Linked DNA regions of Homo sapiens: region 1 is linked to region 2. Evidence: fine-mapped QTL for protein levels in blood plasma. Region 2 holds a variant in brackets. A gene starts in the other region. All regions are shown on their reverse strands.

The links. A credible set is the group of variants that fine-mapping cannot tell apart. PIP is the chance, under the fine-mapping model, that this variant and not a neighbour inherited with it causes the effect. The UK Biobank Pharma Proteomics Project read protein levels with antibody pairs (Olink). The fine-mapping took linkage between variants from a reference panel, not from the people measured, so its PIPs are less certain.
Region 1: it holds the start of CCL14, and the variant in region 2 is the best candidate, but not a certain one, in a credible set for the plasma level of the CCL14 protein (UK Biobank, PIP 0.52).

What each region holds. Positions count from the first base shown.
Region 1 is chr17:35,985,287-35,988,184 of GRCh38, reverse strand. CCL14 (C-C motif chemokine ligand 14) reads left to right here and starts at 1,456. Exons shown (of 3, transcript NM_032963.4): 1 at 1,456-1,614. The coding sequence starts at 1,536. CCL15-CCL14 (CCL15-CCL14 readthrough (NMD candidate)) reads left to right here. Exons shown (of 7, transcript NR_027922.3): 5 at 1,481-1,614.
Region 2 is chrX:70,500,085-70,502,993 of GRCh38, reverse strand. DLG3 (discs large MAGUK scaffold protein 3) reads right to left here. Exons shown (of 19, transcript NM_021120.4): 17 at 2,414-2,523; 18 at 2,005-2,096; 19 at 1-831. The coding sequence ends at 725. Among named protein-coding and RNA genes, the nearest start is that of DLG3-AS1, 46 kb to the right of the region's middle. The variant C/G (reference allele first, on the strand shown) is at 1,577.

The DNA of each region.
Region 1 (2,898 bases), not on the chromosome of region 2:
TTTAATTGATGACTGTCTCCACAACTAACCATGAGATTTCAGCCATTTCCTATAAGATACACATATGTAGACCTGGCTCAATTTGTTTATTCATCCTTCTTTTAAAATGTATATTCATAAAGCACCTGGTATACACTAGGTTCTGCGTGAATGGGCAAAGATAAATAATAGATGTTCTCCATCCTGATGATTCAGATGAGGAGAGGAGATTAAATAACCATCTAACCACATCAGCAAGCAGAATGGGGGATGTACCTCCAAGAACAGCATGGTGAGGGCACTAAGCTGAGAGCCTGCGGAGATGAGATCTGTCCTGCATCCAAATCACTGTGTGCACATGAGAAAGTCACTGGTCCTTTCTGATTCCCAGCTTCCATTCAGTAAATGGCCAGTTTAGACAAATCAAATGGCAGATACATAGCATGCAAGCTGCACTGCAACAGAAACTGCACGTTGGTCACAGCGTATCTTCCCAATGTGCCTGGATATGGCCTCAGAATCATTTCCAACACAGAGCTCCAGTCCACCACTAATCAATGAAACCTACTAGCTATCCCTGAATTAGACATTTTCTAGGGTTCCCACCAAGCTTCTTTGCAGCAAAAGTCAGAGAAACCAGGAGAAGGTCCCAAAGAGATCCACTATCTGATTTCAGAAAGGACTAAGACTAAAGGCTTTATAGAAAACCCATAAGCTTTTACAGAGCTCCGTTGGGAGTCCCATGTTTCTTTATGGCATAATGGGTGAGAACACAGACTTGGAAGCCAAACCACCTGAATTTGAACCCCAGTTCCATTTACCAACTGTCAAAAGCTTAGGCTTTGATTCTGAGCCTGTTTCCTCAACTGCTGTTCTAAAGATTAAATAGGCTAATATTCATAAGGCAACTGGGACAGTGGCTTGTGTGTATAGCAACCATTATATAAGTGAATTATCTACTGAGCACCACAGCACTTCTTCACTCCATGGTGTGGTGACCAGAATGGAGATGAGACAGAGAACTGCAGGTTCTGCTTCGAGTTTAAGTTAGGATTTCCCTTGACCAATGAGACCTGACTTGGAGGAGTCCTGGCCTCATTCCATTACCCCAAACACCCTCTAGTCTCTAGATGAACAGATCCTGAATGTCCAGGCCCCACGTGGCCTGTTCTAAGGCCTGAGATGGAATTGGATACAGGACACATCCAGCCTTGAGATCTTTTGCTAAGTGTGACACAGTGCCCCCAGCCCTGTGCTCATGTTCATGCCTAGGGAAAGGCTTCTATCAAAAGAGTTGAACTTCTTCCCACTGGGGATGGAAGACCATTTCCTCCCTTAAACCTTGGCTCTCCCTGCTTCCTTCAGGCCACCAACAACACATGTGCAGGATATGAAATTGCTGAGGCATCACTGCTTTCCTACTTCCCTTCCAAGTCTCAGCTCCCTTATTTTAAAAAATATTTGGCCTCAATGATCATTTCTCAACAATTCCTCACCGCAGGAGCCTCTGAAGCTCCCACCAGGCCAGCTCTCCTCCCACAACAGCTTCCCACAGCATGAAGATCTCCGTGGCTGCCATTCCCTTCTTCCTCCTCATCACCATCGCCCTAGGGACCAAGACTGAATCCTCCTCACGTGAGTGCAATGCCTTGTCTTCCTTCCAACCTAGAGCCTGCAGGGAAATAAGCAGGAGTGAGGTTGGGGCTCAGGGGAAGACCAGGAGCAGGGACTCAGAAAGGAGGGCTGGTATCTTCTTGAAATTGTGTGTATAGCAACATTATATAAATGAATTATCTACTGAGCACCACAGCACTTCACCCCATGGTGTGGTGAGCAGGATGGAGATGAGACTTAGGACTGTAGGTTCTGCTTAAGAGTTTAAGTTGGGATCTTCCAGCCTTGACCAATGAGACTTGACTTGGGAGACTCCAGGCTTCATTCCACTACCCCAAATGCCCTCTAGTCTCCAAATAAACAGATCCTGAATCTCCAGGCCTCACATGGCCTTGATCTCTTATCATTGCCCCCCAGGACCAGTCCCCCCTTGCCCTCAAGGACATGGAGTGAGACCAGCCTGCCTCTCTACTCCCTCAATTTCTCTCTCTTTGCCGCTAAGCAAAAGAGTGGCCCACCCCATTTGGGGTATATTTCCTCAGGGAGATTAGGAGCAGTGTCTTGAGCCCCTCAAGGGCATTTTTCTATTGGCCTCCTGAGGTTTGGGCCCAGCCTGCTTCCAGCGTCACCTGTGCCCAGTGAGTGCAGCATTGCTTGGGTATGGGCTGGGGGGAAACACGACAGTGTGGGGTCCATCCTAGGCCCCCTTTTCTCAGCTGATTTCTTAGAATAAGCTGCCTTTAGAGATAACCAAAACTATTTATCACTCTTCCATTTTACCTACTCTCCTTTTCAGAAACTGGGGGGAAACCGAAGGTTGTTAAAATACAGCTAAAGTTGGTGGGTATGTGCACAGTTTGACTTGCCCTCTCCGATGTCATTTGTCAGCTCAGAGGAACAAGGTGGGAGAGTATAGGAGCTCTGACTGGGTCTCAGGAAACAGGGGCCCCTTATGCCGTTCTTTGGATCGTGAGGATGCTGCCTGGAATGGAGCTGGAAAACAGGATGAGACCCTTCCACCCAGACATCTGGCCACCCTCAGTGACCTCTGAGGCCATTGTGATGCACATCCATGATTCTATGAAGCAGGGTCACATAACATGCACACACCTGATTTCTCCACTCCATAACCACAACATGTGCCTGTTTGTACAGGGCTCTTGGCCTACAATGTCCTTCCTGCTACCTCTATAATTCAAGCTTGGGGTGGCTGCTGTCACCTTGCTTCTCCTATAAAAGCCATGAAACTTCTCAATCAGAAAATAGATGAAAAAATCACCCAATCCAGTGATTTTTAAAACTTTT
Region 2 (2,909 bases):
GCAGCACTTGCTACCATCTTCAATCCCTTCCCAACCAGCTGGGATAGAAGATGCCATCTGATTGGAATATGAAAATTAAAGCATTTCTCTAATAACATAGTACCATTGATGAAGTCTCCATAGATTTTCTAACCCAAATGTGTGTGAATATATATATATTATATGAGAGTGTATAATATATATATATAATAATTTCTATATATTTTATATAAATTACATATATATATCTATATATAAATAAGATACTTTCTGTCGCCATTACGTTGCACCGTTCAGAGCTGCAAGACAGCAGTACAGATAGGGAGAAATGCCCAGGAGCATCTCATCATGTGGTGCATTTAGCTCACTTCACAAGCCGTGCAGCTGTCCAGAGTCTGTCTTTCCATCAGTCCTCCTCTTTTCTCTTCACTTCTGCTTGGTTTTTATGAAAACAATGGCTCTGATGGATTTTGCACCTGTGCTAGCGCTTGGGAAAGGTCCATGCAGGAATGGGCACAGTCACATGATGAATGAGATGGCATCATCCCAAAAAATAAACTGAAACAAACAAAAACTTAAAAAAAAAAAAAGAACAGGACTAGAAAACTTAATTTTTTTTGACATATCTAAAAAAGGGGACAAGAACAGTAGCATTTGTTCTCCCCATGGGGACAGGAATGAAGAGGGAGGAGGGAAGAGGGACTTGATTTCTTCTGTTCACAAGAGAATGGTTGGAGGGGATTCTTCAGAGTTTTTCAGGGGATGGGACCCAAATGTAGTGCCCAGACTGGTCCTCAATGATTTGTTTGATTTTGTTATAAATCTCTTCCAGTGAGTCACCCTGTACAATGGCTAAAGTGAAGAGGAAAACAAAATTATTACTGTGGTCCATAGCACATCCCCCAAACCCAGCAATCCTGCCTCTCCCAACAATCCTACAAGTCCCCCCTCCACCCCCTCACCCCTCACATGAAGGACATGTTCCCAGGAGTATGGGTTTGGGCTTGGGTTCACTGGCTGGCTGCCTGTGTGTTCAGGGCAGTAAGGGCAACCAACAAGGTACCCCAAGTCCAGGGCTTGAAGTCAACTCACTGAGACAGTGAGACTAAGTAGTAATGACCAGAAAAATGTGTTTATTCAAAAGATGTTTATTGAGCACCCACTATGTGCCAGACCTTGCAGTTCATGTTGTTCTTGGGTGCCATAAGGCCAGCAGCTTGTTATTCTAAAGCAGCCTTACTAAAAGATTTGGAAAATCGCAGTTCTCCACAGAAAGAACTGAAAGCCACAATTTCTGGCAAGAGGCAGCGCTCCTGGGCCCATCACATCTGCTGTATGTCAGAGGTCAGCCCAGCAAACAAGGACATGGATGCTGATGGTAAAGGGAGCTCTGAAGACCCAAGGTGTGTGAGGACATTTATGAATTCTTTACACAGTTAACCTAGTGTCACCACCAGCTAGAATGGATTCGGCACTGCCTTGCATATATTTATGTATATATATGTCACTGTACTTCAAAAGGTGAAGAACGTATTACATAGAAACCTTCCCAATGTTTCAGGAACTGACCTTACACACACACACACACACACACACA[C/G]ACAGACAGACAGACAGACACCCCAACAGACAACTTGAACAGCACACCGAGGAATCATCATCATCAACAAACGTTTATTCAGCACCTAAACATGCAAAGCAAAGTACTGGGGGAGGGGGAGTGGAGCTGAAACGGAGGGAGACAGAGTAATACAGGGAGCCTACAATCTAGTAAGGACAAGACAAAATGAACAAACCAACAATTCAAGGAAGCATTTGGTGAGTGGTTTATGCTATAAACTGGCTGAACTGCTATGGCTGGACACGGGGAACTTGTGTGCTTTGGAAAGGTTTGTGCTCAAAAACTTAAAAGCAACTGGAAACTCCGTGCAAGGTTTCTACATTCTGTCTACACCTCTTTGAGACACTTATAGAAACAGGTACCTGGCTAGTTCCCCAGAACCCCCCGCAGGGCAGCAGGAGTCTTACCTGTAAAGTACTCTCCAAATTCCTGCTCCAGTTTCATGGCTTTGTCATAGATCTTATTTGCTTGTTCATATGTCTGCCTTCGGTTCATTTCCCTGCCAAAGACAGAAGAAAAATAGTTCTGAACCAGATCTTATGTTCTGATTAACCATAAAGGATTATTCCAGGATCCCTAAAAATCTGCTAAGCTGCCCTCTCAGAGCAGCAGTGGCCCGTAGCTAACTCCTCAAACCTGCGTTCAAAAGTCCAACCATGAACATATGCACAAGCCCTCAAAACAGGAGCGCCCAGTGACCAGAGCTGGGGCACAGAGTTTCTTTCAAGTTTCTGCCCAGCAAATCACTTTCTTCTCCATTTCCCTTCCAGACCCGATCTTAGCTTGGTGTGTCTGAGTTCTCAGTTCAACACTTACATAAGGGCTTCAATGGACTTGGGCTTGATGAAAATGGCAATGGGGTAAAGTTGTGCTTGCTGCAGTCTCTTGATAGCATTGCCGGAAACATCTAAGATGCAGTGCTTGCCCTGAAAAAGCAGAGATTGTAACAGCCCAGCCACTCCCTATTCACCAAGTCCCAAGCAGAAATCCAGTGACATTCTAAACATCCACCTTGGCCGGGGGTGGGGGTGAGGGGAGGGGCACGAGGGCCACCCAAAGTGGCCTAAGAAATTCGATCTCTGAAGTAGACAGGCCCTACTTTTTGCTCCTATTACCCAGAAAAGGCCACATCTGTCCAGGGCCCCCTATTCCCTGTTGGGTAATGCTCTGGGGTGAGTTGTATGAAGGAGACAGATAGCTTCGTCAAGGCGCTGGGAGTATGCAGATGTGCTATGGCTTTGGTCAGCAGCACTGTTGGGCAGCTCCTGTGTTGGAAGGATAAGGATCCAAGTGGAACCTTGGCATAAGCATT